Linked DNA regions of Homo sapiens. The protein of the gene in region 3 interacts with the protein of the main gene of each other region in a pairwise test. Each region holds a gene or a part of one and is shown on either strand. Other genes may lie near its edges.

What was found.
Region 1: the proteins of MGRN1 (region 3) and UBE2J2 interact in a two-hybrid assay, tested with the Homo sapiens proteins (one large-scale study listed by BioGRID).
Region 2: the proteins of MGRN1 (region 3) and UBE2Q2 interact in a two-hybrid assay, tested with the Homo sapiens proteins (one large-scale study listed by IntAct).

The regions. Positions count from the first base shown.
Region 1 is NC_000001.11:1,260,315-1,263,961, forward strand, and holds part of UBE2J2 (ubiquitin-conjugating enzyme E2 J2), read right to left. Parts: intron 3,073-3,647; coding exon 3,032-3,072; intron 2,077-3,031; exon of another isoform or gene 1,971-2,076; coding exon of another isoform or gene 1,955-1,970; intron 1-1,954. UniProt on the Homo sapiens protein: Catalyzes the covalent attachment of ubiquitin to other proteins. Seems to function in the selective degradation of misfolded membrane proteins from the endoplasmic reticulum (ERAD).
Region 2 is NC_000015.10:75,846,409-75,850,055, forward strand, and holds part of UBE2Q2 (ubiquitin-conjugating enzyme E2 Q2), read left to right. Parts: intron 1-3,647.
Region 3 is NC_000016.10:4,623,574-4,627,767, forward strand, and holds the start of MGRN1 (E3 ubiquitin-protein ligase MGRN1), read left to right. Parts: upstream 1-1,252; 5' UTR 1,253-1,387; coding exon 1,388-1,475; intron 1,476-4,194. UniProt on the Homo sapiens protein: E3 ubiquitin-protein ligase. Mediates monoubiquitination at multiple sites of TSG101 in the presence of UBE2D1, but not of UBE2G1, nor UBE2H. Plays a role in the regulation of endosome-to-lysosome trafficking.

The DNA.
Region 1 (3,647 bases), on a different chromosome or scaffold from region 3:
CAGCCAAAGCGAGGCTGGAACGATGTTTAGCTCGGTGCTAATGGGCAAGAGTGACTTACACGGCAGGAAACAGCCAGTTGAGCGCAGAGGGTGCTGGGAGATGGACACCCTGCTGCCTCACTGCGTGCGCACACCTGTCGGGATGGGAGACGGGCGCCCTGCTGCCTCACTGCGCGCACACCTATCGGGAAGCCCCAGACGGCTATCCCACTGCTTGTCACCCGCCAGAGAAACCCAAGACAAAGGCACCAAGAGCCACACACACACAGACGTTCACAGCACCAGATGAAAATCAGGAAGCACCCACTTGTCCTGAAGTGGGTCCCTGGCAGCTTGAACATCCCCACACCCCAGGCCATCTGCTGAAAAGCCTGAGGCAAAGGCCTAGCTGGCTACTCTGCCCCATGGCCTGTCCCTCCTCTACCACTGCCTGACCCTCATCACTGGGGTAAGTCTTGAAACCACAGACTCCACTTCATTCTTTAGAAAAATGGTTTTAACTGTTCTAGGTCCTTTGCCTTTGCATGTAGCTTGTGTAGTATAAAAAACTGAGATTTTGTTAGGACTGTGTGAAATCTACAGATTCACTCAAGGGGAATGATTTAGCAACATTTGTAGGAAGCCAGCTCTGAACTGTCAGAGTGGGCACGCCTGGGCAGCACCAGGGGCAGAACAGCCACGGAACCCAGTGCACGGAGGGGACGCAGCTAATGCACAGGCAGGAAAAGGGGTCAGAAATCCCGAAGTCAGGAAGGAAGCTGTCGTCAGCAGCATCAGATACCAGAGGCTAAGAAACTGAGGACTGAGAACAGCCCCTCGGCAAGTGGCAATTCGGAGGGGTTCCCTGGAGACCCTGAAGGAGAGCAGAGGGCAGGGCTGCAGAGAGCAAAAGGCATCCCCCAGTGAGGGGGAGGTCCGCGGGGACGGGAGCAGCAGTGCCATAGAGGGAAATGGGAGGGGCAGTAGGAACACACATTCTCTCTCTGAAGGGAGGCTTTCCTGAGACCCAGGACCAGCACAGAGCCACACACGGTTGTGGGGAACAACGGAAGCGATGGGAGGGGACCAAGATAAAAGCACAAGTGACAGGGTTGGGGCTGGCAACGGCCGCACCACACCCAGGGGCTGCCCCCTCTTCTCCCAACTGTGTCCAGCCCTGTTGGGGGAGCAGCTCATCTCCACCAGCAACTGACCTAGCTGGTGAAGTTGAGGGAGACTGGGTGTGGATACAGAATTAATATTCACTATTTATTTTTAAAAAACTAAAACCACAAAACAAACAAAAAAAATGTAAAGCTGGCATAATTTTGCTTGTCAAAGACCACCACCCATTTTGGTTTTTTTTTTTTTTTTTGAGATGGAGTTTTGATCTTGTCACCCAGGGTGGAGTGCAGCGATCTCGGCTCACTGCAAGCTCCGCCTCCTGGGTTCAAGCGATTCTCCTGCCTCAGCCTCCTGAGTAGCTGGGACTACAGGGCCCCACCACCACGCCCAGCTAATTTTTTGTATTTTTTTAGTAGAGACAAGGTTTCACCGTATTAGCAAGGATGGTCTGGATCTCCTGACGAGTTTCACTCTTGTCACCCAGGCTGGAATACAACGGCACGACCTCGGCTCACTGCAACCTCCGCCTCCCGGGTTCAAGTGATTCTCCTGCCTCAGCCTCCCGAGTAGCTGGGATTATAGGCATGCACTACCACACCCGGCTAATTTTGTATTTTTAGTAGAGATGGGGTTTCTCCGTGTTGGTCAGGCTGGTCTCGAACTCCTGACCTCAGATGATCCGCCCACCTCAGCCTCCCAAAGTGCTGGAATTACAGGCGTGAGCCACCGCGCCCGGCCGACCACTACTCACTCGGTGGTATATATTCTTCAGATCAGCTGAAGGCACACACACGCATCGTAACAAGTACTTTAACACGCCCTGGACACCTGCTCCCGGGCCTTATCTCACCACGGCCTGCTGGCATCCCCAACGCTGGTCATGGGCAATGACACGATGATGGAGGGCCCACCCTACAGATGTACTCCCGCACTCTGGCTGCCCTAGTTGCAGATGATCCAGAACTGGGATTCCTGGGCCAAAGGAGAGTCCACAGGTGTGGCTGTGTTAACTCGGCCAAAATGCCTTCAGGAGAGCCTTTTTCATTCTTACCCACCCACAACCCTCCCGACAGTCCAAAGCAGGGGTTGCAAACCTTCTTCTAGCAGCAGCACTCTCTTCTAGTGAAATCTCATCCAAAGCCTCCACACACAGGCAAACAGAGCCTGCTGCTCCAGCCACCTGAAGCCGGGGCCCTGTGGCTGGACAGCAACTGCTGACCTGGCCCTGCTCTGCCTTGTGCTTGCCGGCGGGACAGTATTCACGGGCACACTGACTACTGACCTGGTCCAGATCGAGGCTGGCGCCAGCCTCCGCCAAAGGCCCCAGAAACTTACTGACAGCTCCAGCATCTTCTCTATAAATGACACTAGGTCTCTAGGTGGTGTCTGCTGACCTGGAGGGGTCAGGCTGCTGGATCAGCCTTGGTAGTCGATGAAGGGCTGAGGTGCTGGACAGGTCCTGCAGCCTACCGAAGCCCCAGGTGCCACCACACAGGGGTACTTCCACTTAGCTCAGAGACCGTCCTGGGGATTGCGAAACCCTGGGGGCGCCCAGCACAGAAGGCACACTGAATAACTGAATATATGTGCCTTTCCTTTGATGATATGCACTGGGTCTTAAGAAATAGTAGAACAGGCCAGCTTCAGTGTTTACCCCGGTCTGGTTTTCTCAGCTATGGCCCTATGGTGTCAGAGGCTGGTGAACACAGACGCTACAGGCGGCCCTGCAGGCTGAGACACATCAGCAGAGCAAACACTTCCAGCGTGTGGAGAAGCAGACGAGGAGGAGTTCCAACTAAGCCAATTTAACTAGCACACATCCAAAGTAGAAAGGCTGCTGTTTGCAAATAAAAGATGTTGAACAGGCAAGGCTGACTGAGAATATAAAAACCGCCTGGTGTTCTTCTCCTAAGCACAGAATCCTTACCTTCATAAGGGGTCATCTCTGGGCCTCGGACGACATAGTGCCTAAGGGAGAGAAGAAAATTACTTGGGATTTGAGGACAGCAAATTCTCCAAAATCTGAATCATTCCAAGCCTGGGGTTTATAGAACCCAGCCAAAATTACATTCACATTCAGGCAGTGAACAAATGAAGGTGAAATGTCACACAGCCACACGGCTTCAAAACCCCCGTCTCTTCTACCGTGGGTGCTTTTAGTCTCTTGTAACAGGATCTTAGAGACTATACTTTATAAGTTTACCATAAAGTACCTTTGTTTCGACAATATAACATGCACGAAGCTCATCTTAATAATAACTGAAATCTTAAATAAATTTTAATTTCACAGTACATTACTAAGATGTACTTGAAGACTGTAATCCCAGCACTTTGGGAGGGCACGGTGGAAGATCGCTTGAGCCCAGGAGCTTGACACCAGCCTAGGCAACATAGCAAGACCCCACCTTTATTTAAAAAAAAAAAGTTAGCCGGGTGTGGTAGTGCATGCCTGCAGCCCGCCTACTCAGGAGGCTGAGGCGGGAGGATCACTTGAGCCCAGGAGTTTAAGGCTGCAGTGAGCTATGATTGTGCCACCACATCCC
Region 2 (3,647 bases), on a different chromosome or scaffold from region 3:
TGTGTTTTTAGTAGAGACGGGGTTTCACCATGTTGGCCAGGCTGGTCTTGAACTCCACCTCAAGCTCCCAAAGTGCTGGGATTACAGGAGTGAGCCACCGTTCCTGGCCGTAAAGACTCTTTTAAACATGGATGACTGTTTTGATAAAATGACATGGCTTGTTCATGTCGATACCATTTGCTTAGAAGGGAAAGATCAAGGGAAAAATGGGGTTGGATTTCAAATGATTTGGTTTGATCGATGATTTGTTATTCTCTAAAGTTGTAACTCTGGAAAAGGTAATGAGTTTGACTTATTCTTTAACTTTTCCTCTTTAGACAGTTCAAATATTTGAATTCTACATGCTAGGACTTGTTTTCTTTATACTTACCAAGAAACATCCTTATGCAGTTTCTCTAATGTTTGAGAAACTAAGTTGTTTTTTACACACGTGCATGCTAGTTCCTGAAGAGTCCTGTACAGGTGCTCTGCTGGCTTTTCCTTTCAGGTTTCTGTATCAGCTGTATTTCTCCCTGTAGAATGTGCCCCTGACCTCCACCCCTTAACCTTACCCCATTTGTCTTTATATGCCTGACCATCCGTCAAGGCTCTTCTGGGTCATATTTAGTTCATGCTGTTATTTCCCCTTCCTCCCTTCTTTAGTCCTTACTATTTTTGCTTTGGTCATGTTTTCTTATGCTGTATTCTGTAAGCCTTTAAATTTTTCTTTTTATGGTGGCAGGGGAGAATATTTTATAATTATGCTTTGTGCTTTTTATCTTCCACTCAATAAATGCTTCATAAATATTTGAGTATATAGCGCTATTCTAGCTGTATTGTATTTGAACAAAAATCTTAACTGCCTTGTAAGTTAACTGCTAAGAATTTGTCAAAAGTGCAGAGATAACATCAATAACTTGTCATGGATAGTACAAAAAGGTCTCTAAGGGCTTGATGGAAGTCTGTAAATTGACTTCATATGAGAGTGTAAGAAGTGAAAAAGACCAAAACAGAGTAGATGTTTTACTCTGTAGGCCAAGGGAATTGAGCTAATTCTTTTCCTGTTTTATAAATTTGTCCTGATCTTAAATAATGAAGGGAAAAGAGTGCTCTTTTTCAACCTCGAGTCCTTTTTATTCTTTTCTGTGAAGCCATGATATGAAAGATTGCCTGTTATACAAACTTAAGTATAGTTTTTCCATCTTCAGTAAACTAACCTGATTGCCGTCTAATTAGTTGTTACAATCACACCGAAATGCAAAGCAGCTTGTTTTAAGCAGCCTTATTGGGAGCTAGTATATGGCTTTAGTCGTTTTGAAGTATTTAACATAACTTGGCAACTCCATTACTCCTTTTATGGACTTTTTGGCATCTGGGCATTCTTGGTAGGAAATCACTGTTTTAGAATGAAAAATCTCCCCCAGGAAGTAAATTAGCTAGTAAACAAATGAAACTTCATTTTTTATATTACTTGTAGAGCATAAATGATTACCCTTTCTGCGTATAAGTGGCTGTTTGCTAGGCTGCTTTTAGTGGGACTTTGTTTTTGATTGGTTAATTAAATTTCTATTCATTATTGCCAAAAAGTGCCTACCCCCAACAGCAAGATACTAAATTTTAAAAATGTTGGAGCTGTGAATCTAGGAGGAAGTGAGAAGTTTAGCTTTTATTTAGTAGTTAGGAGCTTAAGTAAGTCACTTCTTTTACTGTGTTTCTGTGTACTATAGATAATATTTTTTTGCACTGCAAGAGAGCATATAGAGGAAAGCTCTTTGGCAATGATATTATGTTCTACAAATATAAAAGCGATGGTGTCATTTGTGGCTGAATAACACTTTATTTTGAAAATGCTTTATAACAGGTTTTTGTGGGAAATAAAGCAATGCTGTTAACTTCATCTTGCATTTTTCTAGTCTTTACTATGATTAAAAAGTAGTCCAGTCAAAGTTGTACAAAGGAAATAAACCTGGACTAAGGAGCCTAAGACTTTTCTCTTTGGTTTGCCCTCCTGGGACAGATTACCTTTCCAAATTGAATTCATGGAAGAGCATTTGGAAATATCAGAACTGTCATGTTAAGCACCTAAGTGGTACTTTCATTCCAGAAGAATCATTGTTTTCGTTTATCTGACCAATTTATAATATAGGGTCAAATTCCTGGTGGTTATTTATGCTCCCTCATCCCCATTTTTATACCTGTCCTTGAAAGGAACAGATATATGAAGAGAAGACTTAGGTTTCCCTTTTGTGAATAGTATATCCCTTAGTATCTTGATTTTTTTTTTTTAATTTGGTTAAACATATTTAGACCTGGAAAAGGGTAGTATTTGATAAATGTCAGCTAGTTGAGGGGTGGGGAATTGAGTTGAATGGAGATAGTCACTGCCAAATGTCAAGCATGACTGGAGAGCCAGAGTGATAAAGCAGGGGTCCCTTTTTCCAGATCCTTTGTAACAGTGTTATGTGATCTCTTCTAGAAGATTCTGAAAGATAATCCCAACTTGGAACCTAGGAAACCACCCAGTGGGTTTCTGCAGCTTAGGTGGTTCAGATCCTCATCAGCACCTTTTTCTGTGCCTCAGTTTGCTTACAATGATGTTCTCAGTAGCTGTAATTTGCTGCTTGTGTTTGAATACTTAAGCATTTTCTTTTTATCATGGGTATATGAACATTTTTATTTCAACAAGTGTTAGAATTTTTACTCTGCTTTTGTGGGCTCTAGGTTAGCTACTTGGTTGTTTATTTGTAAAATGATTAGCAGGGAACCATGTGTATGCATTTTAAGTATCTTTTGTTGTCAGAGCAGTTAGAATTTTATTAAGGTACTATATGCTAATTCTGTCAATTTACTTCGTTCTCCACCCCACATTTATTGAACAGCAAACTATGAAAGTAATGTGTCCCATAACTGGCCTTCAGAAGAATTACAACTGCTGTTATCTCTGAACCTTCCAGAAGTTTGTGCATCAGTTTTAAAAAAATGATGAAATCCCTGAAGATAGCTGTGTCCTACATTTGGAAAGATACAAAAACTGACCATTCTGGTCAACCAGTTTTGGTTGCTGGTGCTTGAGATAGAGCCACACAATGGTCTCAGTGGATTTATGGAGAAAAATAGATACAGAAAGTTACTTCTAAATAAGACAAAAAAATCTTTTTCTTGAGCAGTGACAGGTAAAGAGGTTGGTTTGGTTAATCTTGAGTTGTGTTTCCCTCCATTAAGACAGTTTTATGGTGGGGATGGTAGTGGTGATGAACTTGTTTGAAATTTGTCCACTTACAGTAATGTTTATGGTAGCTTCACAGACAACTTCATTCTCACAGGCCTTAGAATTACTATAAAACTAATAGAATGGATGAGGAACAAAGGACCTGAGTAATTAGATGCTTAGATAATTGTTCTGTGTTTTCATAACTGTGGTGAAAAAGAGTGGTGCTAGAAGCACTTAAACATTCTATGTACGGGAAAACTGCCTGAATTTGTATTGGGATTTTTGAGCACCATTCACTGTTTAAAAACTGATATACCATAGGTCATATTTATTTTAAAGAGAAATAGTAGGCAAACTTATCTTTTCAAGATAGATATAAAGCTTAGTTAACCTTATCAAAATTACAAAACTTAAAGCATGTGAAAGATTGAAAATATTAATACATAGGTTTAAATAT
Region 3 (4,194 bases):
ATTGGCTGGGTGTGATGGTGCATGCCTGTAATCCCAGCTACTGGGGAGGCTGAGGCACGAGAATCGCTTGAACACGGGAGGCAAAGGCTGTAGTGAGCTGAGATTGTGCCACTTCTCTCCAGACTGCGCGACAGAACAATTTAAAAAAAAAGAGGAAGACTGGATCCTGGACTGTGGTCTCTGGAAGGGTATAAGAAGCATTTCCACATGGACTGTGGTGAATTGACCATTGGAGACTCAGTCTGCCTTGCCCTCCCTAGCTGCTTTCTTGGTACAGCAGGCTTGACTTGGGAAATCACTCTGCTCAGAATCCAAGTTCCTCAACTGAAAAGTAGGTAAAAAGCGATCTATTTGCAGAGCTGTGTGTGACTCAAAAGCCAGGGAACACCTTGCACACTGCGAGGTTTTCATTCTGAAAGCGATTCTTGCAATCTTGCCCGCAGCGCCATTTCATGCGGCTCTCTCTCCTCTGTGCCTCAGTTTCCCTGTGTGTAAAATGTGGGAGAGTCTACTGCCTTCCGTGGAGGCTGTGAAATTATGTCTTTAAACTAATTGGTCCAGACGTGGGGCCAAAGTATCGGGATTACAGGTGAGCCACTGCACCGGGCCTCAGCCTTGTCAGGGGGCCGGAGGTTGCTTAACCCCCTGGATCCCAGCTTCCTCATCTGTAAAACGGGCTGATGCCTATACAGCTCTCAGAACCACACCTGGTTCAGAAGTCCCCAAATGGTAGTCCTCAAATTCTGGCCAAGGCCAAAGCAGGTGCTTCACTTCTTCCGTGCACACCCTGCAAGTGGGCTCCGGGTGGCAGGTGCAGCTACGCCCTCTGCCGGTCGGGGCGGGAGACAAACTCAGGGGAGTGGGGAGAACCACAGCGACTCAGGGAGCTATTTCAGAGGGGGCAAGTGGAAGGCGCTGGGGCTCCAGGAGAGTCTGTAAGCGAACAGATGAGGAAATGACCAAAGAGTTAATATGTTAGTGCAGCGCTTGGAACGCAGAGGGAAGGACCATTTGCCCTGTGGTTGGTTGGTTCCTTCCCTCTGAATTTAGGTCCATTTGGTTTGTCCCGGAGTGCTTGTCAACCCGTCAGAGGGCCTGGGAACGGAGCATCCTGGGAAAGATAGTTCCCAGACGGGCTTCCCGCGCTGCTTCCCGGCGCCTTCGGCGGCGAGAGGACTCCATTTCCCGACGTGCCCCGGGACCGGGAGGCGGAGGGCCGCCGTGGCGTCGGTCCCCGGGCCGAGCCGGGGGTGGGGGCTCGAGGCGCCTCCGCGGCCGTGGACGAGCGTCCGTGCGGCCTGGTCCGGGCCATGTCCGCGTGAGGACCCCGCCGCTGTCGCCGCTCCCGTTCCGGCCCTGGCCCCTCTGCCCGGCAGCGCCGCGCACCATGGGCTCCATTCTCAGCCGCCGCATCGCGGGGGTGGAGGACATCGACATCCAGGCGAACTCGGCCTATCGCTACCCTCCGAAGTCCGGTGAGCGCCCGGCCCCAGGCGCGGACTGCTAGGCACGCGCTGGAACGCGGACCCGGCGGGCGCGGGGGCGGGGACTCGGGGCGGGGCGCCCTGCTCGGCCCCCTCCGGGCCTCGTTGCTACCCCGAGCCTTCGCGCGGCCCCACGGCCCCGATCCCTAGGCGTGGCTGGGGGCCCCGGAGGAACCTGCCCGAGCCGTACCTGGCGCTGCTACTGCCCGGCTTGGGTGACCTTGGGGCAGTCCCTTCGCCCCGGGCACCTCAGCTCCGTCCTTGCAACAGGGGGGAGCTCCTGGGGGAAACCCCGAGGGCGGGGCGGGGTGCTGAGCGCGGGTCCCGGCGCATCGCTTCTGCCTAGAAAACTCTCATTGTCATCAGATTGACCTCACCGCGGGGGCCGGCTTTCGCTTTCTTTAGTGGCTTGGTGTGAAGGCCGAGCCAGTGGTTTGGGCAATTTCCCTCCCATCAGGACGGAGGCTCTTGGTGTGTGGGTTGGAGGAGTGGGGCTGGGCCCAAGGAGACGATTATAGTTGATCGGGAGGGGCCAGGGTCCTTGCTGAGAGGACCCAGCCGATACTCGGGCCTCTGTGTTATGGCTGAGGGACGTAAGACACCAAGGAGGAAGTGACTGCCAAGATCTCAGCTGGATGGAAGCATAGTTGGGACCGGGACCAGCTGTGGGGCTCCCACGTAGCTTTGTTCCCAGCTCTCTTTCTGCCTCTATTGATGAGTTATGTGTTGACTGGGAGCATCTAGCTCCAAGTCTCACCCTCCATCTCCTCGTGGGGTTCTTTGTGGTGGAAAGGAGAGAAGGAAGAGGAGAGAGAACTTGGGCATCATGGGGACATCTAGATTGGGTCCTCAGATCCTGGCGTCTCATCTGATCTGATGTCTCAGTCTCCTGGGTGTCTCCGGACACCCACAGGCCAGATTTCTCTGAGTGTGGGCCAGGTCCACAAGTGGGGGAGGACTGCTAGACATGCCAGGGCCTGCCTGGGACCCCTTGGGGCCTGGGAACCTGCATTTTCAACCCATTCCCCATGTGAGTTTTACGTCCACTCAGGTTTGAAAAACTGCTCTGCCCAGGTTTTGTAAGGTGTGACTAGGTGAGGGCCTGGGGCCACTGGGATGAAGTGAGGGGAACCAGCACAGTTTGGGGGCACTCTGAAGGGGATGGACTCAGAGCTAGGCAGAACGCACTGTTGCCTGCCTGCTGGGGAGAGCACAGCTGTATCCCAGGCCCAGCAGCGGGTCAGCCTGGCCTTTGGGTGGTTCCACCCTGGGGTTTCCCTAGAGGTTCCGAGGGCTGATGGCCCTACATCAGATGGAGCAGTTTGCTGTTGTCCTCTTTCATCTCTGATATTCTTCCAGCCTGCCTCTGGCTGAGTGACCTTGGTCGAGGTTGCTTAACCCCCTGGGTCCCAGTTTCCTCATCTGTAAAACGGGCTGATGCTTATACAGCCCTCAGAACCACACCTGGCTCAGAAGTCCCCAAATGGTAGCTGCTACAATTGCTCATAAAGGAAGATAAGTGACTAGCTAATGACCATAATCATAGTAAGCAGTGGCATGACACAGATATCAAAAAGTTGAGTGGCACTTCCTGTCACCTGGGACCTGAGCTCACTTGATGTCCGTTCTTCACTTGGGCTGAACAGAATAACATACATGTCATTTACAGCCCGCTTCGGGATCCCACTGTGGCTGAAATGTCATTGCTAATCACTCGTGGCCCTCCCTCCCACTGAGCATCCATCGCAGAACACTCGCGTCAGCCACTATTGGTTGGCACTGGCACCCAGGTGCAACCCATCAGCTAGCTGCCTGGGTCATGTTGCCAGTGCCAGCAGTGTTCTGCGCCCATCCAGTCCACAGGTCCTCTCCAGCTGTGCTTTTTCCCTTTCTCTTCTCCATCCTTCCCTGGGGCCTTGCAGATACTTGTTCTTCTCTTTGTTCATCTCTTCTGGTCCTTGCCTTTGTGCCGCACTGGTTTCCTAGACTCCCCGCCTCTCCTGTCTCCTTAATGAGAACTCCGTCAGGTCAAGGGTGGGAGGCAGGCCGGGCCTCAGCAGCATTTTGGTGTGTTTCCCCAAGGGCAGACCGGGGACCGTGGAGACATTTGAGATGATTTTAGGGGTTGCCCCCATGGACCATTCAATCACCCGATGAGAAAGCTTTCTTTTCACATCTCTGTCAATTTTGTTGATTATGTCAAGGAGAAAGAGTCACTGGGTGGTAATATATGCATTTTTAACACCTAACACTGTCCATTTTTCTTAAGGGAACTTTCAGCATGTTCTGCAGCAGCGCTCAGCTTGAATTTAATATTTGCTTTGTTTTCACTATATCTGTTTTACTCTTCATAGCTTTATTGAGATGTAGTTCATGTACCACACAACTCATCCATTGTAAACATGATTTGATGATTTTTAGTTAAATTATAGAATTGTGCAGTCGTCTGGCCAGGCGCGGTGGCTCACGCCTATAATCCCATCACTTTGGGAGGCCAAGGCGGGCGGATCACAAGGTCAGGAGATGGAGACCATCCTGGCTAACACGGGGAAACCCCGTCTCTACTAAAAATACAAAAAAATTTAGCCGGGCGTGATGGCAGGCGTCTATAGTCCCAGCTACGCGGGAGGCTGAGGCAGGCTGAATTGCTTGAAGCTGAGAGGTGGAGGCTGCAGTGAGCCGAGATTGCGCCACTGCACTCCAGCCTGGG